Regions from separate parts of the Homo sapiens genome. Here all the other regions are linked to region 4. The links come from fine-mapping of genetic effects on gene expression. A gene starts in region 4. Each other region holds a variant in brackets. All regions are shown on one strand. Distances are from middle to middle.

Region 1 (8,099 bases), 22 kb before region 4:
GGAAGCCACATGCTCCCCACTCAGAGGAGGAGAGGGAGTCTTCCTAGGGGTGTGGGGGGCTCCAGGACATGCCTGTAAGACGAGTTTCACCAGAATCCACCCAGAGCCCTCTCGTTCAGACACGCACACGTGCATATTCATATGTACACAGCACATACATGCTCGTACATACCACACATGTGCACAGGAGGGCACGGGCAGGTGACCTGCAGCATCTCTGATCCGGGTGTCTCTAAGGCAGTCAGAGGCCACAGGCGGAGATGCTGTGTGCACTGTCTATTCCCGTGGAGACACATGGGGGCCGTCCCTGTGGTGCACATGATAATGCAGAGGCTCCCAGAGGGTGAGCTCTGCCCATCACTCAGCCAGGGAGGGAGGGGCCCTTTTCAGGGAGCCGCATGCCACGCAGAGCTTGTCCCACTGGGTAGTTTCCTCTGATCAAAGTGGGGCACCATCCAGGCTGCAGAGAGAAAGGGGACCCCCCAAAGCCAGCACCCACCCTTGACTGAAAGACACCACAGAAGATAAGTGCCCATCGGCCCCAGAGTCATCATTTCCCAGACAACCGGAAATGGGCCCTGGACGGGCTGTCCTGGACAGGCTGCCGGGCAGTTGGGTGTGACTCAGTTGCGGCCTCCAACTGTGCCAACCAGAAAGGCACCCAGAGAAGCTTCCGGAAATACGGTTGGTTTGTCCCCTTGGTGGGGCAGGAGGCGGCAGCTCTGCCGGGTGGCTCCCAGCACCCTCCCCCACAGAGCAAACATCGGCATGAGTCTGTCCACCCGTGTATTCGTCCTGTCGCCGCGTGTGGCTGGCCTCATTCTGGGTATGCTGGCGGCAGCCACCTCTAGGACAGGGAGGTCCCATGGCTCTGCAGACACAGGAGCTTGGCAGTGGCTTAGCTGTTAGAATGTGAGCCTTCCAGAGTCAGACGCGCCTTTGCCTTCTGTTGGGCTCTGAGCTCATTTCCTCAAACCCAGGGTAATTCTGTTCCTCCTTCACTGTCTGGTGGGGTGGGGGTCACAGTGTCCGGGGGAAGAGCTGATCAGGGCCAGTGCTGGGGTGGGAAGGGCTGACTCCTGGGACCCCGGAGAGGTGATTGTTGCCACGGGGGGTAAAGTTCCACGTGCTGCTCCTCTGAGCCTTGATTCTGGGCACTCCAGGGCGGCCAGGCCTGGCTCACACCTTCCTACCTCAGGGAGATTTCCGTGGCGCAGGCACACGCCCTGTGGGATGTGAGTGGCCACCTGGCTTGGGCCCCAACTCCCATCAGAGAAGCGGGCAGGTCCCGAGCGAGCTGTTCAGGGCACTCAGCAGCCACACACCCAAGGAATGGGGCTGCCTTGTGCCAGGCCGGGGGTCTGGGGAAGGGCTCAGTGGGCGCTGAACTCAGAGGGTCCTGGCAGCGGCAGTCAGCGTCCAGGATGGTCAGCGGTGAGGCCAAGCCCCGTCTTAGTGGAGGGGACGAGGCTGGGCTTTGGAGACTGTGGGGAGCAGGAGACATCCCTGAGGAAACAGGTCTACGCGCCGCAGAGCCCGAGAGCAGCTCCTGCCACGTGGTTGATGCTGCTGAGGCCGGGGGCTGCCTCTGCCCCGCCGCCCCGCCCAGCATGAGCGTGTTCCTGCTGCTGCCCGGCCCGTTGGGCTGAGAGGCTCAGGCAGCAGCGCTGGGGTCGATGGAGTGGACCAGGCAGGGGCCCAGGGCAGGAACCCCCTGTAGATGCACAGCCCTGAGCTCAGCAAATCAGCTGTGGTGACATCCAGGGAGGGGTGGAAGCCCAGGCTCCCCCTAGAAGGACGCTGCCCTTGGCCTTCAGTCCTATGGGGCACAGATGCCGCCTGGGCTTTCTAGGGCCGGCCAGTGGTCCTGGGGTGGTGGCCCCCGTTGCCCCAGGCCCAGTCTGCCTCAGTTTTATCCTCAGTCCCCACTGGCCCCTGACCTGTGCAGATTCCAGTAAGTGAGCGAGGCTGTCAGAGCCCTCCCAGGCTGGGGGAGATGGCCCAGCCCCACATGGTGCCTGCACCTCCGAGGTGGCCCCCTTGGAACCCAGCCCTGAGCAGGCGGGAGCGGCGGCCACACAGCGGCCCTGGGCAGGCGGGAGCGGCAGCCACACAGCGGCCCTGGGCAGGCGGGAGCGGCGGCCACACAGCGGCCCTGGGCAGGCGGAGGGGTGGCCACACAGCGGCCCTGGGCAGGCGGGAGCGGCGGCCACACAGCAGCACAGACCCTGAGCCGGCGCAGTTCCTCCAGCCACGCCAGCTACACCTTGGCTGTGTCCCTGCCGGGCTCCAAACACCTGTGTCCGTGCCACTGGCCACCTCTTCCCTGCCGTGTCACCCCCACCCCTGCCAAGTGTTCTGTGTGTTTTCACTGCAGGTGATGTGGGAAAGGGCGAGTCTCAGTTCAACGTTCTGGTTCCTTGGGGGCTGTCGGAACAATCGTGTGTTCTTTCCAGAGTTTTCTCTGTCTGGGTTTAGATGCCCACACACGGGACCATGTATTCAATCCCTGTGCATATAGATGGTGCCATATACGGAGAGAGGCATAGGTTGTCTTACGAGAGTGGGGTCGCGTTGCACTGTGGCCCCTGCCAGGCCCTGTCCGGAGTGCTGAACACAGAGCAGCAGGTGCCGCCGGTCCCCAGCCTCTTGGAGCCCCGTTCCCTCTGGGCGTCGTAGACAGTCGAGTTCAGCACATCTCTACGTGGAGTTTCGCAAAAAAGGCAACCACTTTGAAATGGGAGGGCCGCAGCGCCATGGCCTGGCGACGCCTGTGAGTGACTACAGTGGGGCCTGGAGGAGGAGCAGGGGGATGAATGCAGCCTTGGGGCAGGCGCTGGGGCCTGGAGGAGGCTTGGGGAGCAGGGCATGGGGGGCGGGGAGCGAGTGCAGCCTTGGGGCAGGCGCTGGGGCCTGGGCCTGGCTGGGCCCCTCTATGCCTTTCAGTCTTGAGGTCTGGAAACCCGGCCGGGATCTCCCCCGAGTGGGCAGTGCTGTTGGTGGCGGCGGGGGGGAGTGGTGCTGGCACTGTGTGGCCGGGCAGAGCCGAGGCCAAAGCAGTTCCATCCACACGCAGTCCACGAAGGGACGTCGGGCGCCTCCCACAAGCAAAGGCCCCGCCCGGCTCCAGCCCGGCCCGCAGGGACGACCTTGCCCTTCTTTCCTCCCTGGCCAACAGCACCACCCCGTGGGGGCCCCGGTGCTGAGGGCTCAGGCTGCCTGTTTCCGTCCTGGAAACCACAGACACCCGAGATCCAAGCAAGGAAGGCAGGATTTCCATACCTCCTCCCCAGCTGAGCATTCGCTGGAGGGGGACGGGGCTGTCACTACGTCCCTTATGATGATCACCTCATAGAGGCTGGGCCTCCCCACACCAGGACCACACGCCCATGAGGGCCCCACAGGCCTCAGCCTAGAGAGCCCCCATGGGAAACCCTGTGCTGTGAATGGTGTGGAAATTCCCCTGTGTCCTTCCCACGTGACCCCACAAAACCCTCAGCCGTGGACATCCCGAGTTCCTCTGAACGCCCGGCCTTCCCAAGCCTCGCCAGCGCCACGGACATCCCGGGGCCCCGGGGAAGGGTGGCTCTGCCGGGAGACAGGGTCTTCTCTCTGGCTCTGGTTCTGAAGGCTGTGGTGGGTGCAAGGTTCACCAGAGACGGCAGGACTCCCGTGCCCTGGAGCGGGAGGGAGTCTCTCCTGTGTCTCCCCTGGGCGCCGGCTCCTGCTGAACCCCAGACCCAGCTGTGGGAGAAAGCTGCCCAGGGCCCTGCAGGAGAGGCGGGGCCAGCCCTGGTGCACACAGGGGCAGAGGCACCTGGGCTGGTCTGGGCTGGGAGGTCAACTCTCCGTGTTGCAATGCTGTGTCCAGGTCTGAAAAGGGCAATGTGAAAGCAACTCCTCAGGGACAGAAGCCAGGCCACTCTGGGGAGAGGCAGGACACAGCCCTTCTGGCCCTGAACACCTTGAGGGGCAGGCAGGGGGTGATGACCCCACTCTACAGATGGGAGCACCGAGGTGCCCAAGGCAGGGGGTGAGGACCCCACTCTACAGATGGGAGCAGTGAGGTCCCCAAGGTGGGGGTGATGACCATATTCTCCAGATGGGAGCACCGAGGTCTCTGAGGCAGGGGGTGATGACCCCACTCTACAGATGGGTGCATTGAGGTCCCTCAGGCAAGAGTGATGACCCCACTCTACAGATGGGAGCACCGAGGTGCCCGAGGCAGGGGGCGAGGACCCCACTCTACAGATGGGAGCACCGAGGTTCCCAAGGCAGGGGGTGAGGACCCCACTCTACAGATGGGAGCAGTGAGGTCCCCAAGGTGGGGGTGATGACCATATTCTCCAGATGGGAGCACCGAGGTCTCTGAGGCAGGGGGTGATGACCCCACTCTACAGATGGGTGCATTGAGGTCCCTCAGGCAAGAGTGATGACCCCACTCTACAGATGGGAGCACCGAGGTGCCCGAGGCAGGGGGCGAGGACCCCACTCTACAGATGGAAGCACTGAGGTCCCCGAGGTGGGGGTGATGACCGTATTCTCCAGATGGGAGCACTGAGGTCTTTGAGGCAGGGAGTGAGGACCCCACTCTACAGATGGTTGCACTGAGGTCCCTCAAGCAAGAATGATGACCCCACTCTACAGATGGGAGCACCAAGGTCCCCAAGGCAGGGGGCGATGGGAGCACCAAGGTGCCTGAGACATGAGTGATGACCCCACTCCACA[G/C]ATGGGAGCACCGAGGTCCCTCTGTGGGCAGCTTGGGGCCAGGCACAGGACTGGCAGAGGCTGGGAGCACAGCTTGTCGGGGCATCTGCGGGTGTGAGGGCCTGACACTGTCTTCAGGGCTTAGCCTTTGTTCTCCCTGCAAGAGGGGACAGAATGCCCTTTGTCTTTGTAAATCTATGCCCTGCTTTAGGCAAAAAGAGGAATCCGGAGAGCACTCCTGGACCTGTTTCTTCTTAATCGTCTTCATCTCAAAGGCCCTTCCTGTTTTGGGGAGTCACACACACTCTTCTGACACTGACGACCTGGAGTGTCACAGACCCTGAAGGTGAAGGGCTCTGTCCCACAAGACTCTGCCCCTACTTCTGATGACAGCCGTACATGGGTACCCAGGCAACCCACACTCACTCCTGACAACTGCAGATTTGGGGAACTTTACATCCCCTCAGATTCACTAGAACACCTCCCAGGGCTCAGGAAAGTGCTTTACGTACAATCATGCTTATTATGAAGGAAACCCATGAACAGCTCAGTGAAGAGAGTGGGGAGGTGGGCACTGATCTCTGAGCACCGTGGGGGCTCCCCAGCCTGGGGGCTCCCCAACCCTGATGCCCAAAAGTTTTTATCTAGGCCTCATTACACAGGTATGATTGATTAAGTCATTGGTCATTGGTGATTGAACACAAACTCAATCTCTGGCCCCTCCCAGGAGTGGGGGCGGTGAGGGGGGCTGGAAGTTCCTCTCTAATTACATGGTTGGTTCCTCTGGCAACAAGCTCCCACCCTAAAGCTACCTTGGGGTCCCCCAAGAGTCACCTCATTAGGGTAAACAAATGTGGTGAAAAAGAGTTGTTATGAAATCAGACACCCCTATCAGGAAATTCCAAAGATTTAAGGAGTTCTGTCCCTGGAACAGGGGACAAAGACCAGATGTATTTTTTATTATACCACAATACAAATCTCTTAATTTATTCAGGTCTCCTTCGATTTATCTCAGTAGCGTTTTGTAGTTTTAGGTGATAAGCTCATGCACACTGAGATTCAAAGGGGTCTGTTGGAGCGTTCAGCAATTCATGAACTGAGCAGTACCAGAACGTGTGAGGTTCAGCGTGAGGTTCAGCGCTCCACTGAGGTTGAGGGGCGGAGCTCTTTTCTAAGTGTCTGCAGAAGCGGGACAAAGACAAGACATCTGGTTAAAAGGAAGTCCCTGGTGAGAGGCTGGTTTGGCAGTTTCTGGGCAGTGTCAGTTTCGTGGCCCAGTTCCCAGTGGGCTTCGGTGTGCTCACACAGGGTCCCAGGCACTGAAGCCGCCTCAGCCCAGGGCCTCCTGGTTAACTTTCTCATGTAGCTTTCCGAGTATATGTCCACCACTTGTTTTGGTCAAAGCCACTCATAAGTAATTTAACATTTTTGATGTCAAGAACAATAAATAGAAGTTTCCTCTTTGTGCCTCCCCAGTCACTGGGCTTCAGTCCCAGGAGGCAGGTGCCAGGCAGACGTTGGTCCCTTCTGCTAGTTTTGCCTGGTCTTGAACCGGTGCTGTGGGCTCTTCTGGGGCTGGTTCCTTTCATGCTGAGTCATGTCTATGTGACTCCTCAGTAGTTAGTTTTTTAAAAAATTGCCAGATATAAATGTGTGCTCAGGCAGGTTTTTGAGAACTCCACACCATCTCTTGGGAACGATGAGAAGTCCCCTGAGTCCCTGTGGCAGGACGTGGGCTTTTCATGGGTCAGCCTGAGCCCCGCTCCATGGCCCCGATGGGCGCTGGGGCAGCACCCTGGCTGGACATGGGCTCCTAGAGAGGGCAGTCAGTGCTCGGCAGGCCAGAATCATGGAGGAGGGGTCGGGAAAGCACTGCTGACCCCCAATCCCATGGATATGCTGTCATCCTCCCAATGGCCTGGCTGATGGGCCATGGTGGGTGTGGACCCCTGAGTGAGTGTCTGGGGGGAAGTGTCACGGGGTCAGCCTGTGTGCTTCCTGGGCTCCTTGTCTACATGGCTGCGCATCTGCTTGGCTGTGTGTCCGGGACCTGCTTGTGTCCACTACAGGCCTGGGCCCAAGGAATCTCGGGAGGTGGAAATGGACACCCGGGGCCGCAGAAGCTGCACAGGTGGGGCCAAGAACCAACCAAGCCTTGCTGCCAGCTCCCCGCTCCACCCACTGTGATGCCAGCTGCTTCTCACATCTGTGAAGCCTCACCCAGCCTTGGGCCATCATTTCAGGTAAATAAAAAGGCCTAATGGCCCCATCAGGCCCTGAGCTCCCTGCTTCCTGAGGAGCTGTCTTCTGCTGGAACTTGGAGGCCACGTGGGCAGAATGAAACTCCTGCTTCCGACAGCAGACGGCAGCAGTGACCTACTCCTGGCTGCCCTGCCCATCTGGAGCGGGTTCTGGGTCTTTTGGGCCCTTTGAGGTTGGTCCGCCCTCCTGCCCTGGCAGCAGCCAGTATTTTACTCCCAGTTGCTCCAGCCTCCCCCAACCCCCTTCCCCGTAAGTAACCTGCCCCGACGCTTGTCCTGGAGCCACGGTGTGGAAGATTCCAGCAGCATTGAGGAACCAAATTTTATATACAGCGTTTCCTCCAAGCACGCAGCTCTGATGTGCCTTTTCCAGGGCCAAAGGCCCCTTCAGGAATCTTCAGGCTTCCCGCTCCACCTCACCTTCTGTAGTGCTGCCAGGCTGACGACAGCCCCCGGGTCTGTGGCTGGCCCCTCTCTCCCAGAGCATCTTGGCCTGCAGTGCTGGCCACAGCCAGAGAGAGGGAAGAGACAGCCCCAGCAGTAACCACGGGTGCCTTCGGCCCACGCACCTGCCGGTCGGCCCCAAGGGTGCCAGGCCTTCCTCTCCTATCGCCGCTGTGGGGCTCCAAAGGGCAGCCAGGAGCCCCAGCTCTGCTGTGGCTTTGCTGTTCCCCAACTGTGAGACCCTCAGAGAGCTGCCGGGCGCAGGTTTCCTCCTCGGCCAGCGAGCAGTCAGACCAGGCTTCGGACCCCTCTACTGTTCCAGGGTGGAGGGGAGGACCCAGGAGACCCAATGGCCTGGATGCCAACAGCCAGCGTGGCCTGACGATGCCATAGGGCACAGGGACAGGCTCTCCGTCCTCTGCGGCCCCGTTCTGCTCCCACCCCAGTGCCCTCCTTTCACCCTGGGGTCCTCCCTGGACCAGCAGCTGCCACCCACAGCACACTGGGATATTTGTGCTGGCCTAGCTACTACCTGACACAGCTGACCACCTCACCCGGCTGACGACCCACACAGCCTCCTGGCCTGGGTCCTCCTGCGCCAGCATTGTGTGTCAAGTGTGTGTGTGGCTGGCATTCCTGTGTGCCGCGTGCAGAGCCTGCAGGACGCCCTTCAGTTCCCAGGATGCC
Region 2 (8,099 bases), 210 kb before region 4:
TGCGAGAATTATGATTTAATGTTATATTTTTACTACATTCATTCAACAAACATTCATTGAGCATTTACCATGTTCTAGGCCCTGTAGTGAGTGTCATTTGAGATTAAAAACATCCTCCCCTAACTTGTCCAATATTCCTTTTGAAAAGAATTCCCTAAAAAATTTCTTGTATTGCCTTGTGGGCTAAAGTACTGTCTTTCCTGAAAGTCTGACATGCTTCCTTTTATCAGATAATGTGACTTGTGTAAGATTCATATTTCCATATTTCCCTTTTCACCTTGGCTATCCGGAAGCTCAGTGTGTAGCTTTACGTTCAGCTGTTCTCACCTTACATGTGTCAACAAATCCACTAAAAAAATTTCTTTTAAAAGGAAAGAGACAGGCCGGGCGCGGTGGCTCACGCCTGTAACCCCAGTACTTTGGGAGGCTGAGGCGGGCGGATCACCTGAAGTCAGGAGTTCGAGACCATCCTCAACATGGAGAAACCCTGTCTCTACTAAAAATACAAAATTAGCCAGGCATAGTGGTGCATGCCTGTAATCCCAGCTACTCGGGAGGCTGAGGCAGGAGAATTGCTTGAACCTGGGATGCGGAGGTTGTGGTGAGCGCCGAGATTGCGCCATTGCACTCCAGCCTGGGCAACAAGAGCGAAACTCCATCTCAAAAAAAAAAAAAAAAAGGGGAAAGAGACATTATTCCAGCAAGCAGTTTGCAAACTGGGAGATGCTGCCTTTGGAACAAAACAAAGGTGCATTCCAGAGAAGAAACATGCGATTGTCTTCCACAAGGGAATTCCTGCCCAGGATCTCATTCTGGCCTTTATGCAGATAAGGGAGGCAGACTTGCTTCATTCTGTTTGGTAGAGCCTGGTAGCAGTCTATTGGTTTGGTCCAGAGGGCAAATTGGGATTTTCTGGCCTTGGTTGATTCCAGCAGCATGAACAGACAGCTGTGAAATTTCCAGCACTTCCGGGAACGCAGAGCTGGCGTGTGACCTCTAGTGAGCAAAAGGTCGCGTGCCTCCATTTTGAATTCAGGCCCAGTGAGCCCCTTGGGATGCACCTGGCAGGATGGGCTCTTTCAGGTTCAGATACCTGATTCCACCGTTCTTCCTTCAGTTCTTACTTTGAACCCTCCAAAAATTATTCCGTTGTGTACTGGTCATTTATGTGGCTTCAAATCCTTTGAAAGTAGATTGTTCAGACATGATCTAATAATGCTGTTTTGGAAATGAATGAATGTCCACTTGTCAATGGGTTGATATGTGAACAGAAGAGTATATCCAAAGAGAGCAAAGTGTAACACCAAGGTCATTGAAAGAAGAAATTATAGAGATTTTCTATTGGGTCATCATCTGATCCTTTCTTCTCTCAGTATTTTATTTCCCAGCTCATATTATCACAGCTCTAAGAGACAACTTTCTAATTTAGAAAACGAATGACCAAATCCTTCATTTAGAACACAAATGTGAGAAGGCCGGTGCTTGGGCAGCTCTGCGGGGCTGTGTTTTGTTGCGGGAGCCCTGGATGTATGCTCAGCCCCTGTGCCTCTCAGAGGGCTGGGGGCCCCACATACAGATACCTTGCTCCGATGTGCCTGGATAAGCACTGAGGGTGGGTTTTAGGGACCGACTGGGGAGAGATGCACGTGGGGTCTGAGTCGACCGTCTGTGGGGCACTCTGGTCATGCCCAGCATCCATTTGTGCAGCACAAACTTTTTCTCTGGGACTGTCCGCCCCCCAGGTTCTTGTGGTATCGTAAAGACGACCACAGTTTCGAGATGTAGGAGTGAAATGGACCGAGGCTAACCCAGTGAAGTTTGCGGCTGGGTTAAGGAGTGAGTCAGGGAGATGCGTGTTTTCTCCATCATGACTGGGAGAGGAGTGCTCATTTGCCGGGAGGTGAGGGTGACTGTGCACCTCAGCCGCCAGCAGGAGCACCAGAGAAGCCCTGCTCCAGCCCTGCTGACGTCTGGGCCTGGGCCACCAGCCGGTGCAGTGAGCCTGGACCCCAGGAGTGCCTTTTCCAATCCTGACAGACAGCTGCTTAATGTGGGACATTGCTTTACTTTACGAGTTGAAAACGCCACCCTAGCAGCACGGAGCACCTCCCAGGGGCTAAACCCTGTATCATGACTGAATGCGCCCATGTCAATGAATTCTAACATCTAACTCTACATTCTGCCTCCCCTGAATCCAACGTTCTTTGGATCTAGTTCTGCATTTACCCCTGGCTCATGCTGGTGCATGCATTTTGGTCCTGAAGCTCCTTGGCCGACTGTCTCTTCCTCAGTTTTTAGCCTCAGCACTTCTCCAGCTTGATGATGCTGACCTGGAGGAGCTGAGCTGGAGGTGGGTGGCAGGCGTGTCGCCTTGCAGAGGTCTCTGCAGTGTCTTCAAGCACAGAAACAGCATTTGTCCTTAACAGACAGAAATGTGACACCTCTTCAGGCCCAGCAGATTTAGAGGAATCTGGGATTCAAGATTTTTGAGTGCATTCATTCAGATGGCCCCATCGCAAGCCTCTCTTCTTCCCAGTCAGGGCCTCTCTTCTTCCCAGTCAGGGTCCAGAGCTTGGAACAGCACCTTCCGAGGCCGAGCACCCGAACCTGGAACAACACCTTCTGAGGCCAAGCACCTGGCCTTCTCTGGAGCTCTGCCTTCTACACGGTTAAGTCCTGGCCCTGATCCAGTGTTTTGGTTTTCCTCTGGTCACAGGAGATGAGTGTCTTATGTGGCACTGAGGAGGCCCGTTAGCGTGCCACCCTTTTGTTTCAGGTGGTGATCTTTTCATTATCTTGCCCTCAACACGAGCCACCTGATTCCATAGTCCATGTATCTGTGACTTTCCCGAACTCTCCAGCACCCGAGATCCTGCCGCTGCCAGTGCATTTCCTTCCAAGGGGCTCCCGTCCTGGCTGCCACTGCTGCAGTCTGGAGATTCACTCCTGACCCCAGCTGTCGCCTGGAAACAAACACCAAAGCGAGATCCGCGTTGAGTTTATCAGCAGGCCTGTGAGGGTGGAGGGATGGCAGAGAAGCAGCTTTGTGGCTGGGCTGCCACAGAGGACTCCACTGGTCCTCGGAGAAACACAGGAGCCGGCTTGCTTCCAGTGGCTCCAAACGGAAGCATAGTCTCCGTCGTAAAGCAGGGGTGTGGATGGCGTCCACAGCACCCACTGCAGACGCCACCCAGGGCCAGCGCTAGACGCAGAGGCTCTGGGTTGGAACCAGGGGTGCCGCCTTAACCTCCTGTTCTGCCCCAGTGAGCACCAGGCTTGCAAGGGCTGAGGATGAGAGAGGCCCCTGTGGCTGCAGGCTCCCAGCAGTCAGGGGAAGAAAGGCCATTCATTCTTTCAACGCATGGAACTGCTTTTTAGGAAGTGAAGGTAAGCAGTGGAAAAAAATAGGCCTCTATCTTCATGAAGCTCCTGTTCCTCTCCATGCAGTGTGTGTGTGTTTGTGTATGTTCACGTAGGTGTGTGTATGTATGTTTAGTGTGTATGTCTGTGCATGTGTATGGGTAGTATATGTGTGTGCTGTCTGTGTTGTGTGTATATGAACATATGTGTTCATGTGTATATGTGGTGTGTGTATGTAGGGTGTGTGTATATGTGTGTATATGTATGTGTGTACACGTGTGTAGTATGTGTGTGGTGTCTGTGTGTGGTGTCTATGTGTATGTATATGTATATGTAGTGTATGTGTGGTATATGTATGTGTGTATATATGTGTAGGGTGTGTGTGTGGCACTGGGTGCAATGAAGTTTTGCAACATAGAGGAGGGAGTGTAGTCTCAGTTCATA[T/C]ACACACCTACAGTTCATACACACACACAAACATACTCCTCAGAGAGGAGGTCAGGGAGGAGGAGACCTCGAGACAGAAGAAAGGGAGGTAAGGGTGGTACCTGCCCATGCTGGGGTCTGCAGGGGGACTGGGGGGGGACCTGCCCATGCCGGGGTCTGCAGGGGGACTTGGGGGGGGACCTGCCCATGCTGGGGTCTGCAAGGGGACTTGGGGGGGGACCTGCCCATGCCGGGGTCTGCAGGGGGACTTGGGGGGGGGACCTGCTCATGCCGGGGTCTGCAGGGGGACTGGGGGGGGACCTGCTCATGCCGGGGTCTGCAGGGGGACTGGGGGGGGACCTGCCCATGCCGGGGTCTGCAGGGGAACTGGGGGGGGACCTGCCCATGCCGGGGTCTGCAGGGGGACTTGGGGGGGGGACCTGCCCATGCCGGGGTCTGCAGGGGGACTGGGGGGGGACCTGCCCATGCCGGGGTCTGCAGGGGACTGGGGGGGGACCTGCCCATGCTGGGGTCTGCAGGGGGACTTGGGGGGGGGACCTGCTCATGCTGGGGTCTGCAGGGGGACTGGGGGGGGACCTGCTCATGCTGGGGTCTGCAGGGGGACTGGGTGGGGGAGACCTGCCGGTGCCGGGGTCTGCAGGGGGACTGGGGGGGGACCTGCCCGTGCCGGGGTCTGCAGGGGGACTGGGGGGGGACCTGCCCATGCCGGGGTCTGCAGGGGGACTGGGGGGGACCTGCCCATGCCGGGGTCTGCAGGGGGACTGGGGGGGGAGACCTGCCCATGCCGGGGTCTGCAGGGGGACTGGGGGGGGGAGACCTGCCCATGCCGGGGTCTGCAGGGGGACTGGGGGGGGGGAGACCTGCCCATGCTGGGGTCTGCAGGGGGACTTGGGGGGGGGACCTGCCCATGCCGGAGGTCTGGGGTGGGGGGCTGTGTGTGCGTGTATGTGTCCCCGCCCCCCTCGTGCGTCTGCAGCAGGTGCCTTCGGATCGCATCTCAGGAGCTGGGGCTGGGCGCGGGATTCCTCCCCTGCCAGATCGTTGTACGTGAACTTCTCTTGGCAAAGTTCGTCCGCGAGTCAATCGCTCAGCCTCGCTCAGCGGGCCCGGGCCGCGCCGGCGACCTTCCTTCGTCTCTTCCGCCAGGCAGCCCGCTGGGGTCCCTTCCGCTCAGCGGCCAATCCGCGGGGCGGGGGCGGGGGCCGAGGCCTCGGGGGAAGCCGATCCCTGCGCCCCCCGGGTCTCCGCCACCCGCCAGCGCCGTCCCTGCCAACCCCGCCCCTGCAGGGCCCGGGCCAGTTGGGAGCAGGGGCCGGGCCGCGGGCGGAGCCTCCCGGTCCCCGCCCTCGCCCTCGGCCAACTGGCGGTCTTGCAGGCGGGCGGACCCTCGGCCGCGCTCGGGGCTCCGGCGCCGCCGCTCCTCCTGCTCGGCCTGAGCTGCCCGGGCTCGGCGCGCGCTTGGGGCGAGGCTCGGCGGGCGCGGACGCGCAGCATGGCGGTGGAGGACGAGGGGCTCCGGGTCTTCCAGAGCGTGAAGATCAAGATCGGTGAGTGTCCGCCGGCAGCCACGCGTCCGACCCCCCGGCCCGACCCTGTCCTCTCCCGCGCCCGCCTCCCCTCCGCAGATCCTTGCTGGGGACCCCGGCGGAGACGCCCTCCAGGCGCGGCGCGCTCCCCGGAGAACGGCTGGTCCGGCTCCGCGGCCCCTCCCCACCTCCCCGCCTCCCCGGGCCTCGGGCTGGGTCGAGTCGGCTCCGGGGTAACGCGGCTCCCTGCGCCTCCTCTGCGCCCGGAGCGGCCCCGGTCCCTGGTAGCGGCGGAGGAGGTGGGGTCCCTGCGCCGAGGGACGTCTGTCCGCGTGTGCGCCCGAGCGTGTGCCCCGCGTGTTTGCAGGAGTGCGCGCGCCTGAGGCTGTCTGGGCGCCTGCACTTCAGGTGTCAAATCCACTGACGTCGGGGTCTCGGCATCTCCCTTTCTCCGCTGCGCCCAGAAACTTCCTTTCCGGGGAATGTGGAGGCTCCTTCACGCTTCTCCCCAGGGGCGTGAGGCCCCGGCGCGCTGCTGCTGCTGTGCGCGCGCGTCTGTGCCTGCGTGCGCGCGTGTTTGTGTGTGCTTGTGTTTGTGTGTCCATGTGTGGGCGGTGTGTGTGCGCGTGCGTTTGTGGGTGCATGTGTGGGTGCGTATTTGTGTGTGGATGCATGTGTGCGCGCGTGTGTATTTGTGTGTGGGCGCGTGTGTGTGCGCGCGTTTGTGTGTGTGCATGTGTGCGTGTGTGCTGGTGGGGCGTTCTGGCTGAGGGCTCCCGCGGGGCGGGGAGACCCCGGACCCATCGGCACCACGTCCCTTTCCACTGAGAAGTGGCGGGCGAGCTGGTGGCGACCAGGGCCTGCGAGGCTGCGGTTTTTCTCTGGGCTTCAGCAGCTTCTGAAGTGGGCTCCCGGAGGCGTTTCCGGAGAGGAGGCTGTGTCTGGACTTCTGGTTTATCTGGAGGGATCTGCTTTTCCCTGGTTGTTTTATCTTGGGAGAGTGATGTGGAAGTCCTCCCCCTCCCCCAGAGCAAGACCGTTTCCTGGAGTGACTGTTCCATATTCATGCCATGAGTGTGCTGGACCACAGCGCGGTTCAGGCTGGAGAGGCTTCCAGGGCCTGCAGTGTCGCGGTCCCCACGGTCCTTCTCCCCCACTGAGCCGCACTTCGCAGCCGGCCTCTTCCCGTGTGAAGAGGCCTCCGGGAACGGGCTGAGTGTCAGTTGTTGATGACATTTGATGCTGCCGGAGGCATTCCAGCTCCCCTAAACCAGCGGGCTGTTTCCTGTCGGCTTTATTTTGGTTTGCGGATCATCGCTGAGACACTGTCTTGATATTTGGCCCAGAAGCGCTGCAGCTAGGATGTGGCAGCACTTCCGCTTTGAGTAGTCCAGAGAGGAGGGATTTCTTTTGTTAATGTGGTTTAAATCCGCTGTCACTTTCATACAAGAAAGCCAGAGCTGGCGCTCCCTGAAGTGCCTGAGGTCGCCTTGCCTGGGTGGGGAAAGGTCGCGGCCCGTGGGGGTCAGTTTGCTGCTCTTTCCTTCAGCCAAGGCTGCTTGGCTCAGCCAGCGAGTCTGAGGAGTGTGAGAAGCACTGGGCTTCCTCAGTCACGGGGGCAGGAGGGCTGGAGGTGGGTGCCCCTGTGGGGCAGTGCCAGGTCTCCAGGCAGCAGGCAGAGGCGGCCTGGGGCTTTGCGGCTCGGGGGTGGGGGGCCCACAGCCGGCACAGCATGCTCGCTGTGTACTCCAGGAAGGGCTACACTTCAGGCCACGGCAGGACTTTACAGAAGGCATGGGAAGTAGAACAGGAGGGCGAGGGAAGACCAGAGTCTCAGACCAGATACTCAGACCCTGAGTCTCCCAGAAGGCAGCTTCACCGGCCTGCGGGCACTCGGCCCCACTTCCGACAGGCGTGGGGGTCAGGCACCCTGGAGGATCCCTCGGAGAGAAGGAGGTTTGGAGATGCCACAACTTGGTCAGGCTCTGTGCTCCACTTTAAACAAGCCAGTGAAACCCTGGCTCAGCTGAGGCTTAGGCTGCTAATCCCACGTGGGGCCTGGATATCATCTGAACCTTTGACCCTCCCAGGGGCAGCAGCAGTGAGGACGGGTAGAGAGGCCCAAATGCCAGCTGCCCGACTCTCTGGATGTGGCTCCAGCAAGAAGTCCCCGTTTCCTCTCCCCTCCAGAGGTCACCTGCAGGGCTGGCTGCCTGAGGGGTATCTGTGCCCCAAGTAGCTGGGGAGACAGGGCACCTCCTGCATTTGAGCAGAGATGCAGTCTGGGCTGGAGACCCTGAGGGTGACCTGTGGGTGCGCTGGTTTGGGGTTAGTCTCATGTAACTGTGCTGCTGGCCTGATACCCCGGGGCTCCAGCAGAAAGCCCATCTGTAGAAGCGAAGTGGAGGATGACCCTGAGCGGCGCTGGTGCCAGGGGGCCACTGAGCCCCTCAGGCTCTTTCTTTAATCCACATTCATGGCCAACCTTGGCTCTGACTTGCCCTGCCTGAGTCCCTGGTCTTGAAGGCTCAGACAAGATGGTGCCCCTGTGGTTGATTTGAGGGCCCCTCGCTGTCATTCACCTCTGAGCCTTGTCTCCAGGAGCGCTGGATTTGCCCATGAGTCTGCCAGTGACTTGCTGCATGACCCAGGGCCCGTGTCTTCCCCTTCATAACCTCATTTTTCCGTTTGCAAAAGCCAGGCAATTATTGTCTACTACATCCGGTGGGAACGTACAAGGCAGTGTTGTTCAGGGTTAAGTTAACACCC
Region 3 (8,099 bases), 51 kb before region 4:
AATTCACTTCCCAGATTGAAGGCCTGAGAAGCTTGAGATCCGGGCGTAGCAGTGCTGGTTTAACTGCGGGTCCTCTTCTGGGCTGCAGCCCGCCAGTGTCTCATTGTGTCCTCACATGTGGAAGAGGCAAGCCAGCTTCCTTGGTGTCTTCTATAGGGACGCCCATCCCCTGCACAAGGGTTCCACCCTCACGCCTTGTCACCTCCCAAAGGCCTCATCTCCTGATGCCATCCCTTGAGAGTTAGGATTTCAACCCACAGATTTGGGGGCACAAACATTCATTCCATCCAGATGGACACAGCTGCAGGGCATCGGTGCTGGCTCCGGGAGTGCGTGCCCAGGCGCTGTGAGCAGTGAGGCAGAGACGTGTACCTGGTTCAGGTGTTTGGACTCAGGTGGCACAGGGCCCTGCCCTGGCTCAAGGGTTCCATGGCTGTCCGCTAGGGGCGAGGCACCAGAATGGCCTTCAGCAGGAGTGATGTGGTCCGATTAGGAAGGTGGCCCCGGTGCGTAGGTGGGGTCCGGGGCAGTGGTCTTTAGAAGCTGCGGCACAGACTGGTGTCCGCCCTGTGCTCGGCCAGCCCTGGGCTAGGCCTGTCCTGGCTGGACATGCTCAGTGGCAGCTGGGTGTGAAATGTGCTGAACCCCATCGTGCTCACTCCCTCAGCTGACTCTTCAGGGCTGCCCCAGGGCCCATGAGCCAGCCCAGCGTCCAGCTGCAGGTGTCTCTCCTCCTGGTTCTGGCTGGGCGGGCTGGTGGGGCGTGCAGAGATGTGCACATCCCCCTGTGAGAATGGCTGATTGGTGACAAGGCTGGGAGCTAGGGGCAGCAGAGCCCTCAGAGGTGAATGAGGTTGCTCAGCATCCAGCTCCCAATGGGCTTTCCCTGGGCTCAGTGTGGGCACAACTCGCCTACCTGCGGGAATGGTTTCTATCTCCGTCTGCGTTTACGAGTGGTGGTCAGCCCTTTCTGGAGGAGCTTGCGTTGGAAGGATGTGTACTGTGGGTGGGGCCTGCAGCGACGCAGCTGTGTGGAGACGGGGCCGGTGGCCTGGGCTCCTGCCCTGCGCTGACCCCTCCGCCCTCCACAGAGGCCTGTGGGAGCAAATCTGTGTATGACGGCCCGGAGCAGGAGGAGTATTCGACGTTCGTCATTGACGACCCCCAGGAGACCTACAAGACGCTAAAGCAAGTCATCGCTGGGGTTGGGGCTTTGGAGCAGGAGCACGCCCAGTATAAGAGGGACAAGTTCAAGAAGACGAAATATGGAAGCCAGTGAGTGCCACTCCCGTGCCTGCCCTGGACGGCCAGTGTAGTGGGCGGGAGATTGCAGTGGGGGTGGGGCTGCAGGGAGCTCCCGGGTGGGGCCGCCCGTGCTCAGGTGTCCGCCTGGGAGGAGAGTCCCACTTGCACCGGGCTGGCACCTGGCGGTAGTCAGTGGACGTGGCCCGGCGCTGCTGGTCCCTCCTTCAGAGCAGGTGCTGCCTTTGCTCTCCAGGCCCCCAGCCAGCGTCCGGGCTGCCTCCCTGACCTGCTTCCTCCCAGCCTCTCTGCTATACTGGTGTCACGTGCTCTGGCAGTCTCTAGGCCCAGGTCTTGTTCTGCCTTGGTTCAGTGGCACACCCTCTGGCATCTCTCCAGGCCACCCATGGTGCCCGGGAGCAGGGCCAGCTCTGGACGAAACCCACTCTTGTCTCATGAGGCAGGTGTGGCGAGGTTGAGTACGTTCAGCTTAGTCACCAGCTGCAGGCTAGGTGGCGCTTAGCTAAGCTCCACTCCCCCTCACTCCATGGAACAGAGGGTTGTAAGACCCTCATGAGTTGCTGGAAGATTGACTTAAACTATGTAAAGTGCTAGGCTGGCTCTTAGCCTGGAGTGAGCAGATGTGTCTGTGTCACTCTCTCCATCCAGTGGGTACCCAGGTCCACCATGGCAGAAGCCCCCACACGGGCTCATTCAGGGGCGGGTAAGCCCTAGAGCCCTGTGTAGCTGTACAGCCTCCTCCTCACTTCCATCCTCCTGCTCACTCCTCTCTTTGGTCCTCCCTCCCTTCGATCCTCCCTCTCTCCTCCTCCACCCTTCTTCTCCCTCCTTCCCTTCCTTCCTTCTTAACCCCTCCTTCCTTCCACCATGCGGGTCTGGTCTGGGAAGGGCAGTGGTGAGGCTCCAGGAGAGTGACAGGTCCCTGTGGCCCGGACTTGGACCGAGTTGCTCAGGGGACTGAGCCTGCAACACCTCCTGAGTGCTGTGACTTCACCTCTGACATCATCATATCAGATCCCTCTCGACACCCTTCTGGGGAGACAGCCCCATTTGCCTTCCAAATATGTTGCCTCGTTGATATCAGCAGGTCCATCAACCTCATGGCCAAAAGCCAGCAGGTTGAAAATGCGCGAAGCATGATGCTGTTTGTTGTAGTAGAAGGCGCACACGAGGCACACATGGTACAAGATGCACACACATGGCAGGAGGTGCACACACATGGGTGGAGGTGCACACACATGGCAGGAGGTGCACACACGGAGGAGGTGAACACGTGGGAGGAGGTGGTGCACACGTGGGAGGAGGCACACACACGGAGGAGGCGCACACACATGGCAGGAGGTGCACACATGTGGGAGAAGGCACAGACGGAGGAGGTGCACATACATGGCAGAAGGTGCACACGTGGGAGGAGGTGCGCACATGTGGGAGAAGGCACACATGGAGGAGGCGCACACAGCAGGAGGTGCACACACATGGGAGGAGGTGGTGCACACACGTGGGAGGAGGTGCACACACGTGGGAGGAGGTGTGCACACACGTGGCAGGAGGTACACACAGAGGAGGTGCACACATGCGAGAGGGGTGCACACACGTGGGAGGTGGTGCACACACATGGGAGGAGGTGCACACAGGAGGCACACAGAGGTGCACACACAGGTGCACACGTGGGAGGTGTACACACGGAGGGGTGCACACACATGGGAGGAGGTACACGTGGAAGGAGGTGCACACACGTGGGAGGAGATGCACACATGGAGGTGGTAGGCACGTAGGAGGAGGTGCACACACATGGAGGTAGTGGACACACATGGCAGGAGGTGCACACACATGGTATGAGGGAGGTGTGCATGTGGGGAGGAGGTGCCCACGCCTGCTGAGTGTCCCAGCACTGGGACAGATCTGTGTCCCTGGAGCTCATGCTCCCCACACATGAGCACACTCTTTGCAGTGCAGATGTGCACATTCTGCACACGTGCCATACACTCTACATATTCCACATCTGCACATGTATATGCGCTACACACGTGCCACAGGGAGAGCACACGTGCACATGTACTTGCACGCCTGACCCACCTGTGCACACACATCAGAGTCACCGTGGGTGCTTCCGGGGGCACTGTGGTTCCTTTGGCTCCTCTATTTTTTGTGTGGATTGCAGTGTGAGTGTGTCACATTTAGGAACAGGAAAAGCTCCCGCAGCCACGGGTGAGCACCAGGCAACGGGGTCTGTGCCTCATTCCCTCTCCCATCCCCCTTTTCAGGGAGCACCCCATCGGAGACAAGAGCTTCCAGAACTACATCCGGCAGCAGTCCGAGACCTCCACTCATTCCATTTAAAGTCTGCGGGACGCGCCCAGTGGCGCCAGCAAGCTGCCCATGCAAAGCCGCAGCCTTTGGGAGGGAGAAGAGAAGGAAGAGCGCAGAGCCGGCAAAGTGAGATGCACGCCGTCCCGGCCCATAGACAAGTGGCGCTGGGGTTTCCCTCTCCCAGAACCGCTGCCACCACCGCCACGCCCTCCGCAGAAAGCCCACCTGGCCCTGTGGAACGTGTCGTCATTTGATTCTGTGCTTTTTGCTCCTTGTTTGTGGGGATCTGGGGATCAGCTGAAGGATCAGGAAGTGTGGGCTGTGCCCTAGCCACACCACAGCCAGCCTCAGGGAGCCACGGCCCGTCTAGTCGACTGTGACATGCACCTCCGGCCGTGTGTGCGTCAGTCTCGTGCACGTCTGTCTTGCGTGCACGGTGCGTGTGACGCTGGGCTCTGTGGCTCTGTGCCCGGGAGGCCTGCTGGCCCCGCCTCGGCTTTCGGCTTCATCACATTGGGAGGTTCAGAGCATTACTCTCCCACTGTGCCTGCCATCCAGGCAGCCATGGGAGGCGGCCTCCCTGTTCCACTTTCGAGGTTCGTTTGATTCCTGGCTGAGGGGTCAGTTTTATGGCTGGGAGGTGCAGAATTACACAGAAGTCCCAGTCTGAGGATGTCCTTGGTGCTTGGGGGATACGGGTTCTGTCCACAGAGTCCCTTGGAGGGAAAGGTGTGGGCTCCAGCTTCTCCAGGCGTCTGCGGAGCCCACAGTTGAAGCCCACATCGTTTTGCTGTTGAATGGGGTTTAAAATCAGAATTAACATTTGCCACCCCCCGTGGAAGTTTGAAGATTTTAAAAATAGAAATGTACATTTTTCAAGCTGTTTTTCTTTATGTTTTTGAAGGACCATTTTTAATTAGCTCTTTGATACAAAGTAACTCAGAACGTCAAAACCTATACCCACTAAAGGGAAGGCTGCCGGGAAGGCAAATGGAACAGGAATGGAGCCTGTCTCAGGAAGGCCAGCTGCAGGTCCTCCAGAAAATCAAAGAAGGGAAGAAACTCTGAGTTTGAGGTACAGGGGCTTCGGGGTGCAGACGTCC[C/T]TCCAGGGCCCATGGTCAGTATTGCACCTGTGTTATGAACCCCCAGATGCTGTGCAGGGCAGGGGCGGGGGCTGCTGTTTTATTGGGGAGGGGAGCATCCTAAAAATGGGGTCCAGGCAGACCCCTCCAGACCTCACACTGCCGAGGAGGCCTTTCCCAAAGGGCGTCCTCCCGGGATGCAGACGGCAGGTGTGTGGGAAGCGCCGTTTAAATACACAGCACGACGTATCCTTGTACCGACTTCTCCCGGTTCTTGTTTGAAAATACTGTAGTTCAGGCTCTTGATCTAGATGGCAGATAGGAACTTTCTTGTCACAAAAATACTGGAGGAAAATGTTGTAAAAATAGACTTTTGGACACACAGCTGTTGGGGCTGCACTGAGCTGCAATTTTTAACATGGATTTATAACTTAATGTTTCTGTTTATAAAATACTAATGATTTGCAATGTATTTTACTGGCCAATTAAAACAGATGTTTTATTCTTTCTGAGGACTGCCTTGGTTTTCCAGTGGTACCCACTGGGAATTGCACATGTGGGCATTAGGGGTGGGGGGTACAGGGAGGAGGGTGGCACCTGGGGAGCAGGATGACATTGCTGATGCCAAGTGACGTCCCTGGTGATGGGTGATGCTGCTCTGACAGGTGGCACTGCCCTGATGACAGGTCACATTGCTGATGCCAAGTGACATCTCTGGTGACAGGCAGCGCTGCTCTGACAGGTGACAGGTGACATCGCTGGTGACAGTTGACGCCTCATGACGGGCAGCGCTGCTCTGACAGGTGGCACCGCCCTGATGACAGGTGACATCACTGGTGACAGTTGACATCTTTGGTGATGGGCAGCGCTGCTCTGACAGTGGCATTCACCTGTGGTGCCTCAGGTGAGAGTCCGGCCCTGTGATAACCTCAGGAAAGGTGTGTCCACTCAAGGAGTGCTGGGCAGACAGACCACCACGTGCTGCCATCTCCAGGAATGCAGAGGGGGAGGCCACTTGGAGGCCCTGGGAGAAGAGAACGGACTGCGCCTCTAGGCAGGTGGCTGCTGTCCCTCCAGGCAGGAGAGGGTTAAGGGGGGCTCTGGGTGAAGACTCCATGATACGTTGCCTCATTTCTTTATTCCTTTCCTTGCTCCATTTGAATTCCTCTTTTTTGGTAATTCTATTGTGAGTCAGCTCTGGTATGAGAAAAATGAGGAGGTGTGGCTTTGGGGACACCAACCCAGGCCTTTCTCCCAGGGAAGGGTGAGGCTTGGTTCAGCCTGGCCGGCCTCCTTAGTCCATGCTGAGGTGTGGGGTCTGCCCCAGTCCAGGAGTGGCTATGGGTGGTGGACAAACCCTTGCAGGTGGGGGCATCCTCCCCGGGAGGCCAGCCCGTCCTCCTGGAGCCACACTTCCCGGCAGGGCCTCAGGCAGTGTCGGGAGCCAGGGGGCTCCGTTCACACTCTGGGCACAGCTGTGCTGGGGTCAGCCCAGGAGGGCCAAGGTCAGCCCCTCCAAGAGGAAGTAGAAGGGCAAGGAGGACGAGGCCCCAGGGAACGTGGAGAATGGAAGCCCCTTCTGGAACAGCCAGGAGAGTCCTACAGGGCAGTGGGAGGTGGGAGTGTATGGGGGCCGGAAGCCCCTGCGCGTCTCCACTGATATGGTTTGGCTGTGTCCCCACCCAAACCTCATCTTCAGTTGCAGCTCCCATAATTCCCATGTGTGGTGGGTGGGACCCAGTGGGAGGTGATTGAATCTGTGTGGTGGGAGGTGATTGAATCTATGTGGTGGGAGGTGATTGAATCTGTGTTGTGGGCGGGACCCGGTGGGAGGTGATTGAATCTGTGTGGTGGGCGGGACCCGGTGGGAGGTGATTGAATCTGTGTGGTGGGAGGTGATTGAATCTGTGTGGTGGGAGGTGATTGAATCTGTGTGGTGGGAGGTGATTGAATCTGTGTTGTGGGCGGGACCCGGTGGGAGGTGATTGAATCTGTGTGGTGGGCGGGACCCGGTGGGAGGTGATTGAATCTGTGTGGTGGGCGGGACCCGGTGGGAGGTGATTGAATCTGTGTGGTGGGCGGGACCCAGTGGGAGGTGATTGAATCTGTGTGGTGGGCGGGACCCGGTGGGAGGTGATTGAATCTGTGTGGTGGGTGGGACTTGGTGGGAGGTGATTGAATCATGGGGCGGTTCCCCCATACTGTTCTCGTGGTATAAGTCCCACGAGATCCGATGTGAAAGTTTTATGAGGGTTTCTCCTTTTGCTTGGTCTCATTCTCTCCTGCTGCTGCCATGTAAGACGTGCCTTTCACCTTCCACCATGATCGCAGGGCCTCCCCAGCCATGTGGAACTGAATCCATTCAACCTCTTCTTTATAAATTACCCAGTCTCAGGTATGTCTTTATCAGCAGCATGGAAACTGTCTAATACACCCACCAAGAGACTGCAGGTGGCTTTGTGGAGACCCCAGTGACGCCCATTTGCCCTTGTTGCTCCAGACGACCCAGCACTTGTTGGAGAGAGACAGCGGCCTCCTCTCCCATCCTGGCAGCATCCGCGGGGCTCCCGACATCAGAGTGTCCAAAGCAGGTGCCTCTGAGGAACCGTCCCAGGAGGCCAGGCAGTGCCAGAGCGTGTGTGAGGCCAAGGCCCCCACCCTGCACCCACCACTTGCCCAGAGAGCTGAGGCCTCCTGGGTGCTGAGAGGCTGTGGGCTCTTCAAAAGAAGAGATCAGAAGGAGGGGAGCCTGCAGCCTGGGGGTCACACCTGCTTCCCCCTGGCTGAGGAGCCCCGGGTGCGGGAAGCGGGTCCTGGGGGCGGGGGGGTGCGCCGGCTCGCGAGGTGCCTGTCAAGGGGCAGAAGGGGCTGCCCAAATAAGCCACACTGTTGTAAGGGTTGTTTTGAGCTGAAACAGCCATCCACAAGGATAAGAACGCTGCTTTCTTCTGGCTCTGGAGAGCGTCTTCCCCGTGGGGTGTTACCTCCTCTTTCAGGAAGGAAAGGCCATTCCCGGCCACACAGACCGTGCTGGAGTGCGTGTGCCTTTCTCCAGCTCATCTGCTGATTTTAATTATCAGGCCCGACCAAAAAACCCCAAGAGGTAAAATGTTGCCTCCCCACCCACCGTGGTCTGGAGGCTGGAGGAGACAGCGTGCCGGGGATTTTCTGTTCGGCTCAGTACAGGCTGAACTCTGTCCCGGCAAATCCTCATGCTGGAGCTGTGACCCTGTGACCCTCAGGACCTCAGGGTGTGGCTGCACTTGGGCGTGGAGCTGTAGAGATTGTCAAGGTAAAGCGAGGCCCTGACCCAGTGTGACCAGCGTCCTCATGAGAAGGGGAGACGAGGACGCAGCACACAGGACCACCACGTGAGGACACGGAATACGTCATCTTCGCGCCAAGGAGAGAGGCCTCGGGTAACCAGCGCTGCGAGACACCTTG
Region 4 (8,099 bases):
TACAAACCCACCAGCATGGCTAACATGTTCAAAAGTGGCCCTGCCAAGGGCTGGCGAGGATGTGGGGCAACTGGAGCGCGCAGCATGTTGGCAGGATCATAACACAAGAACCACAGGGAACGGTTCGGCCATTTCTTAAAAAGCTACACAGAGTCACCATGTGACCCAGACATGTCTGTTCTGGGAACGTCCACAGAAAGACTGTGTCGTAAACGTTCACAACAACCTTGCCTGTAATCACCAAAATCCAAAACAACCTGAACGTCCTCCACGGGTCAGTGGATGAACCAATTATGATACACCCATGCAACTAGTGCTCCCCAGCATTGAAAGGATGAATTGTTGGATGAATCTCAAAATAATTACACTGTGAGACAATGTCAGGCAATAAGAGTATACACGCTGTGTTACCCAGGACAGAAATGAATTAATCTACAGTGACAGAAAGGTCAGTGTCATCAGAGGAGCAGGAGGGTGGAGGGACGGGGCAGGGGCCAGCCTGGGGGAGGGGATGTCCATGGTCTCGATTGTGGTCATGGCTCTGTGGGTGCAGCAGAATGTCAAAACTTATCAAACCGTACGTCTTAAATATGGGCATTTAATTGCATGTCAAAAAAATCTAAACAAAGCTGAAAATGGACAAAATACCACAACCAATGACATCTGACCGTAAAGAGATGGATTTAGGTAGAAGGAAGAATTCTTTAACACAGAATATGGGTCTCTGAGGGAAATGTTATCTCGTAATTTTCTCACTTTTGGTGTATTTAAGCTGTAGGACAAGGAGTGAACCCTAACATTTGGTGAGAGTCTGTGAAACACACTAGGAACCCCCATGCTGCTTGCGAGTTACTTCCGAGAAACAGCAGAATGTCACACCCTGTCACCCGCAGGTGCCGTCTGAGGGGCGCTCATCCCCACCAGCCCGAGGGCCTCCCCGCCAAGGGAGGGGTGTACTCCCTTCCACTTGGCGTCTGCTTGTGCATTGCCCCTCCCTGAACTCAAGACCTGAGCCTCTCTCGCCTGGACTATTTGGAAAGTCTACAAATGGAAGAAGGGGTGCTCTCACTGAGTTGTGTCCGCACAAGGGAAACTGTCCAGGAGCCACAGAAGCAACCGCAAAGTGAGCCTCTCAGACGTGGTTAAAGGGAAGCCAGGCAAAAAGACTGCACGCTGTTGGGTTTCATTTACTCAAAACCCTAAAACAGGCAGAATGAGTCATCTGTGGTAAACCAGCATTGGGGTTACCTCTGGGGGCCGGGAGGGAACCCTGGGGTGCCAGTCACGTCTGGCGTCTCGGCCTGGGTGGTGGGGATGGCTCGCCAAGCCTGTTTGTTGCACACGTGGCATGTCAGCAGAAACACGGGGCAAATACACACGTGAACACAAGAACCCCGGGTCCCTCCCTCATCTACCCAGCGACCCTCAGTCACCCCAGCCGGCTCCCTCTCGCCACCCACGGGCTTTCTGTGGAGGCCCCAGCCTGGCCCTGGAGGCCGTGACCCACCCCGCCTCTTGCCTGAGGTCAGCCCAAGAGACCTTCCTGTCTTCGGCCTGGAGAAGGAGCGGCCGCCAGGACCACCCGGGCCTCAGCTCCCTGGGAGGGCCCCTGGAGGACCGGGGCTGCTAAAGTCCACGGGCATCACCGCATCTAATCCAGGCCCTTTGATGTGGGTGATGTTGATACTCCCACTTTACAGGTGGGGAAACCAAGGCTTCAGCTTCCGTGGCCAGGGGATGAATGGGAGTGTGGTCTGGATGGTGGCTCCTGGACCGGAAGCATGATGGGAGCCATGAGGAATGCAGGTTCTTGGGTCCTTCCAGCTCTGCTGGATTGGATGCTCGTGGGGGCTCAGGGTCAACACAACCCCCCAGGACTCTGACCTGGGAAGTGGAGCAGCCTGATTTGGAGGCGAGGACACACCAGGAGGCACCTTGCCCTGTGGCCACTGCACTGAGGCTTGAGAGATCACTAGAGACAGCTCAGCCTCAGTGCTCCCGCGCCCCCGCCTCGGTGCTCCTGCGCCCCCGCCTCGGTGCTCCTGCGCCCCCGCCTCGGTGCTCCTGCGCCCCCACCTCGGTGCTCCTCCACTCCCACCCCGGTGCTCCTTCCACCTCTGCCTCACCCGATGGACTGTGCCTTTGCGTTTCTTGTGCACAAATCCTGCTGAAGTCTGGGCAGCTGTGTGTTTGATGATGGGCTTGTAGGAGAGAAGCATCTGGACTGCGCCGTGCAGATGGCGCTTCTCTCCAGGCACAGTCACATTCCTGGGAGGTTCCTGGAGGCCTCCGAGCCTCGTGCAGACCCAAGGCTGCCTCACCACCATGGCCACAGCCCAGTGCTGGCTGCCGGGCATCAAATCTGCAGAAATGCACGTGGCATAAAAGCACCAGAGACATCCGTCCAGAGCCGAGGGCTCCTCCCTGGCCCAACATTTTGTCCACGTAAGTCCACTTTTTGGCTGCTGCTCCCAGGCCTGGCAAGAACGCAGATCCCCACAGCCTCCTGCTCCCTGGCAGCCTGAGGACAGTGTCGTAGGCCTGGGATCCTCGGGCAGAACTGAATGCAGCTTTTCCATTGGAGGGCGCTGGGCCCACATGGCAATCACAGGTATGGCAGATGAACTCACGGGATGCTCCGGGACTCCAGGGGCCTCAGGAGAAAGGCCCACTGGCAGCGGGTTGCCCAGGGCTCCAGAGGGGGGCTCCAATGTGAACCAGTTGCTTGTGGCACAGCGGGTCACCCAGGATGGCCCTGCGTGGTCAGTGATAACAGGCAGTCACTCACAGCGCGACTTCACCCATGGTCACTCCCGGTGACCAGCACTGCACAGCCTGGGCTTTCGTCCCACATGGCACCTCCCTGTCCAGCCTTGGCCCAAGTGCCTGGGAAACAGACAGGGCACCGTGTGCCTGAACACACTCGGACAGTCGAGGCCCCCAGGAGAAGCAACAGGCAATGACTCGGTCCCCAAGAAGCTGAGCCTGTCCTTGCTGGGGTCTGTCATCTCCTCTTAGCCCCGCCAGGCTCCTGAAGCTGCCACATGTGCAGCGGGAGGTGGGTGGTTTGGGAGCAGAGCGAGGCTCTGGATGGACGGGCTTTACCACCAGCAGCCACCACCACCTGCTCTGCAGGGCCTGGGCCAGCCCTGAGGAGGTGGCAGACGGAAGGAGGGGCAGCACTGCCTCAGGTCTCCTTTACTGTCTTCCAGACATCAGCTCAGGGAGAGTAGGCATGTAGCACTGAGAAACAGGGTTGCTCCCCATGGCTGCCTCTGCTTCCCTGCCGCACAGTGTCTGTACACGGCCTGGGGACCTGCGAGGCCAGACCGCAGGGCAGGGGCCCACGGCTGTGCCAGCTTCTCTCCCAGGCCGTGGCGGTTATTACCTCCTGACTTGGCAGAGCATCCGGCTACTGGAGCCCATTGGTTCCGGCCAGTGCAGTCAGGACTTAGCTTCCCAGCTGTGATCTAAATCCCAGCCTCCCAAAGGCACAGCGCCTAAGTTCTCCCCTGCCAAGCTCACAGCCTTCTCCTTGGCAGGCTGCCCTTTCTCCTGCTGGACCAAACCAAGGAGCACGGTGACCCAGGGACACCACACTCGGTGTCAGCCTCTGAGGCCATGGAGCCACGCAGACCCAGCACAGGATTAGAAACAGACCTTCCCGGGAGGCAGAGAGCCAGGCCTCCTGGTTTATAGCATGACAAGGCAGCACTCAGGAGGACGCATCAATCCTTCTCCATGTCAGCACCTGTGACTGTGACCACTGGTGAGGTGGACATGCTTCTTTTTCCATTTTACAGATGAGGAAACTGAGGCCAAGGGAGGGTCAGCAGCCTGCCCTGGGCTGACTGGTGATGCAGCGAGGGTGGGGTGTGGGAGGGTGGCGGCGGCCCTTGCAGTCCCTGGGAACCTGCACCTCTTCCTGGGCGCTGTTCCCCTCTCTCTCCCAGGACCCTTGGGCCTGGCGTTTCTTCACCTGCGACCATCCAGGAGCTGGACCTGCCCTAGGGCGTCAGTTTCCAGGGAAGCCTCTGGCCTGTGTGTGAGCCTCCCCACCTGCCCGGCCACGGCCTCCACAGGCGCCCTGCGCAGCCCCGCCCCTCCTGGGGCAAAGGCTTTGCGAAGACTTTCTTCTCTGGCTCATCCCTTTAAGGAGGCATAAAAACGAACCCCGGGCCTCACAGGTCCGGAATGCGCCCCCCTCCACGATGGGAGCTTCTTGGCCTTGGCTGTGCAGGGGCCGCGGCTCCTGGGGGTCTGGCCGGATCTGCAGTAGTGCTGAATGAGCTGTGGCCAGGAAGACGCAATGAATAATTGTCACTTAAAAGGATAAACAGAAATTCCATTTCCCTTTTAAATACTTGAACATTTCAAAACATCTGGAGGACGCGATGCTTTTCCTTCCAAGCATCTCCGTGGAGTTTTGTGGGTTACCGCAGAGGATCGGCAGCATTCCTCTCTCAGGGAAAACTGGCCTGAGCATTGCATAACGCAGGCAGACTGCACCCCTCACGTCGCCTGGGGCCACATGCACATGTTTCCAAGAGACTTGCTGGAGAATCTTCCCCGGATCTTGACAAAGTTGGACATGGAAAGCACGTTGGTCCATCCAAGGTCCACAGAGCGACCCTGGCTATGAAAAATCATCCTCCGAGTGGGAGTCTGTCTGCCAGGAGTGAGGTGACACCGCACATGGCCTCAGGAGCTGGAAACGCTGGTGAATTCAGATGCAGCCAAAGCTTCTAACTTAGTCACAGTTATTAATTATTCTTGGTCTTATTGGAGCAGGAACCACTGCCATGCATCAGGCCAGCAAGGCTCACTCCCCACCGTAGGATCCCTGTGTAGACGGTCGCTCCATCAGTGTAGTTGGGTGTGTGGAGCAAGGGACTGGGCTGACCCTACCTTCCAAGCATCGATGTGGCCTTCAGCAGAGCAGGAGGAGATAGCCCAGGACTTGTACTTTGCAGTTGAAGTGCCAGACCTAAGAAATGCAAACCTGAGGATGGAAAGAGGGTGGAGAGGGGGGAGGTGTCTGGATTGGCCGTCCAGAGCAGCCCCAGCTGCAGCAAGTGGAACTTGGCTGGCTGCCTCACAGGCCTGGTGGCAGCGTCCCCAGCGAGGAGCCTGTCCCACATATGAAGGTCCCCATACCCTTAGCCCCTAGCTGAGAGTTTCACTGACCAGAGCTCCCTGAGTCCAGGGCTCCACTCAAGGGACTGCTGTCCCCGTTGGTGAAGAAGGCCTGTTGGGGCCAATGCTTCCCCCCACAGGGAAGCGGAGCTGTATTTTGTCGGACAGAACTTTGCAAGCCTGAAACAGCTGGTGGTGGCCCCAGAGCCAAGATCTGACCTCACTCCAGAGTTGAAGGGCACAGAGAAGGCACAGCTAGAGGCGGCAGGTACCCCTCAAAGCTCTCGGGAGAGGGTACAAAGTGGGACCTCCCAGCACCCTTGGCCTCCAGGCCTCAAAAGCCCTGAGAGGGCTGCATGCAAGGAGACAAAGCTGGAGAAGGATGTGGGAGGCAGGTGGCTAAGAAGACAGGCTGGAAAGGGACGTGGGAGGTAGGTGGCTTTGCTCTAAACAGAATCGTCTCAGTAATGTGACACTGCACATGTATAGGTAGGCTCGCTCATGGGCATAACCCTCTAAAACACACCTTTTATGGAGTGAAATTCACTTAACAGCCATCTTGAAGCATATACTTCGGCGGCATTTGCTGGATTCACGACGTTGTGCAACCTCTGCTTCTCCAGTTTCAGAACATTTCATCCCTCCAGAACAACAGCTCATCCCCATTAAGTAATCACTCCTCATTCCTTCCCCATCCTCTGGAAACCACAGATCTGCTTTCTGTCTCTATGGATTTGTCCGTTTTGGATATTTCATATAAAAGGAATCACGCGGTGTGCGAACGTTTGTGTCTCACTTCTTTCGGTGGAAGCCACATTTCCAAGCCTCATCCCAGTGGTGGCCCCTGAGTCCCCTCAGTGTATCAGTGTCTCACTTCTGTTCACAGATGCATAATATCCCACCCCAGGGACCGGGCACCATTTGTTAATCCCTTCACCTGTGGTGGACACCCGGTCGTCTCCGCCTGCCGAGACCAGCTCGGTCAGGGAGACCCTAACCCAGCGGCGCTAGAGGAATTAAAGACACACACACACACAGAAATACAGAGGTGTGGAGTGGGAAATCGGGGCTGACAGCCTTCAGAGCTGAGAGCCTTGAACAGAGATTTACCCACATATTTATTGACAGCAAGCCAGTGATAAGCATTGTTTTTATAGATTATAGATTTAAAGGCATTCTTTATGGGAAATAAAGGGATGGGCTGGAAATAAAGGGATGGGTTTGGCTGGTTACCTGCAGGAGGAGCATGCCCTTAAGGCACAGATCGCTCACGCTATTGTTTGTGGATTAAGAATGTCTTTAAGCGGTTTTCCGCCCTGAATGGGCCAGGCGTTCCTTGCCCTCATTCCGGTAAACCCACAACCTTCCAGCGTGGGCGTCATGACCATCATGAGCATGTTACAGTGCTGCAGAGATTTTGTTTATGGCCAGTTTTGGGGCCAGTTTATGGCCAGATTTTGGGGGGCCTGTTCCCAACATCCGCCTTCCAGCTGTTACGAAGGACGTAGCTACGAGCGTCTGTGTGCGCGTTTCCGAGGGAACAGGTTTTGTTTCCATGGGGCGTGTGCTTAAGGGGTAAATGCTGAGTCCCATGCTAAGTGTATGCCTAAACTTTTTCAGGAACCACCAAAGTGTTTTCTGCAGCAGCCACACCATTTTACATTCCCACTCCACATTCTCGCATTTTTCTACTTAAAAAAACTCCAGGCAGAGGGAACAGAACAGGTAAAGACCAGAGGCCCAGTAGGCGGTGCTTGGCTGGAGCTCACCAGGGGCTGGACCAGAGGACACGAGAAAGACGGGAGTGGAAGCTGATGCCCAGTGGTGGATGGCAACGAGGGCTCGGGTGGCTGGGCCGTGTCGCTTATGCAGAGGAAACGGAGATGCTTGGAAATGCTTTGCAGAGGTGAGAATATGGCTTGTTGGGAGAGCGCTTGTGTATCTGGAATTATCTGAGGCCTGGAGGAGTGACACCAGTGACAAAGCCTTTGCAGGACACCCAGGAGGCCATGGGAGTTGTCAGGTGGGACTGCCATGAGAGAGGGCTGGAGAGAAGAGGCGGGCAGAGGACACAGCCTGGGAGCATCTGCAGTCTGGGCAGAGGCGGAAGCAGCCTTCAGGGCGGTAGGTGGGAAGGAGACAGGGCAGAGAGGGTTATCCAGGACTCTGGGGAGAAGAGGCAGGTCCCAAGTTGTTTACCAAGAATTTACATTAAAATAACATAAGCTAGGCTGAGTGTTGTCACACCTGTAATCCCAGCACTTTGGGAGGCCAAGGCAGGCGGATCATTTGAGGTGAGGAGTTTGAGACCAGCCTGGCCAACATGGTGAAACCCCGTCTCTACTAAAAATACAAAAAATTATCCTGGTGTGGTGGCGTGTGCCTGTAATCCCAGCTACGCTGGAGGCTGAGGCATGAGACTCGCTTGAATCCAGGAGGCAGAGGTTGCAGTAAGCTGAGACCACACCACTGCACTGCAGCCTGGGTGACAGAGCAAGACTCCGTCTCAAAAAAAAATAAGCTATTGATGGGCTATATATTGTTAAGCTATAGGGTGTGGTTACAGTGTCCAGTGTAGCATTGTTCGATTAATTTATAGCCTCTTGTGGCAACAGCAAGCAGTTTCCAGAGATGAATACACAGCTTGAGTAGGCAGGGGGGAGTAGGACATGACGGCTGCCTCATCTTAACACCTTGGGCCTGATAATTTAAAAGGACTCACAGTCCTCAGATAAACATGACTTTCTTTTCTCATGAGGAAACAGAGAAGGTGGCTAAAGGGTATCTCTTTCTCTCATGATCCCAAACCTATCAGGTTTTTATTTCCCACACCACCCAGTTTTCCAGCTCCTTGGATGCCAACTGGATGTCCTGGAATTCCATTCAATTCTGAGACTAACAACCTGGGTTGCAGTGCACCGTCCTCCCTCCCGGCATCTGGATGAATTCACCACCCTGGGAGT

What was found.
Region 1: its variant is fine-mapped to the expression of SWINGN in whole blood (TOPMed, PIP 0.99).
Region 2: its variant is fine-mapped to the expression of SWINGN in blood mononuclear cells (TOPMed, PIP 0.97).
Region 3: its variant is fine-mapped to the expression of SWINGN in whole blood (TOPMed, PIP 0.94).

The regions. Positions count from the first base shown.
Region 1 is chr13:113,946,385-113,954,483 of GRCh38, reverse strand. C13orf46 (chromosome 13 open reading frame 46) reads left to right here. Exons shown (of 7, transcript NM_001365455.2): 7 at 1-779. Among named protein-coding and RNA genes, the nearest start is that of SWINGN, 21 kb to the right of the region's middle. The variant G/C (reference allele first, on the strand shown) is at 4,729.
Region 2 is chr13:114,129,687-114,137,785 of GRCh38, reverse strand. It overlaps RASA3 (RAS p21 protein activator 3), which reads left to right and starts at 5,163. Exons shown (of 24, transcript NM_007368.4): 1 at 5,163-5,351. The coding sequence starts at 5,297. LOC107987192 (a long non-coding RNA gene) reads left to right here and starts at 6,783. Exons shown (of 2, transcript XR_001750050.2): 1 at 6,783-8,099. RefSeq lists enhancers at 2,642-3,142, 2,972-3,151, 5,440-6,067, 6,238-6,737, 7,028-7,287 and 1 more and silencers at 4,858-4,957, 4,988-5,647. The variant T/C (reference allele first, on the strand shown) is at 3,805.
Region 3 is chr13:113,974,851-113,982,949 of GRCh38, reverse strand. RASA3 (RAS p21 protein activator 3) reads left to right here. Exons shown (of 24, transcript NM_007368.4): 23 at 1,092-1,275; 24 at 3,528-5,167. The coding sequence ends at 3,603. Among named protein-coding and RNA genes, the nearest start is that of C13orf46, 4.8 kb to the right of the region's middle. RefSeq lists an enhancer at 3,562-4,062. The variant C/T (reference allele first, on the strand shown) is at 4,677.
Region 4 is chr13:113,924,333-113,932,431 of GRCh38, reverse strand. It overlaps SWINGN (SWI/SNF complex interacting GAS6 enhancer non-coding RNA), which reads left to right and starts at 3,441. Exons shown (of 1, transcript NR_047495.1): 1 at 3,441-5,918. It also overlaps a transcript of C13orf46 not described here. RefSeq lists an enhancer at 1,426-1,495.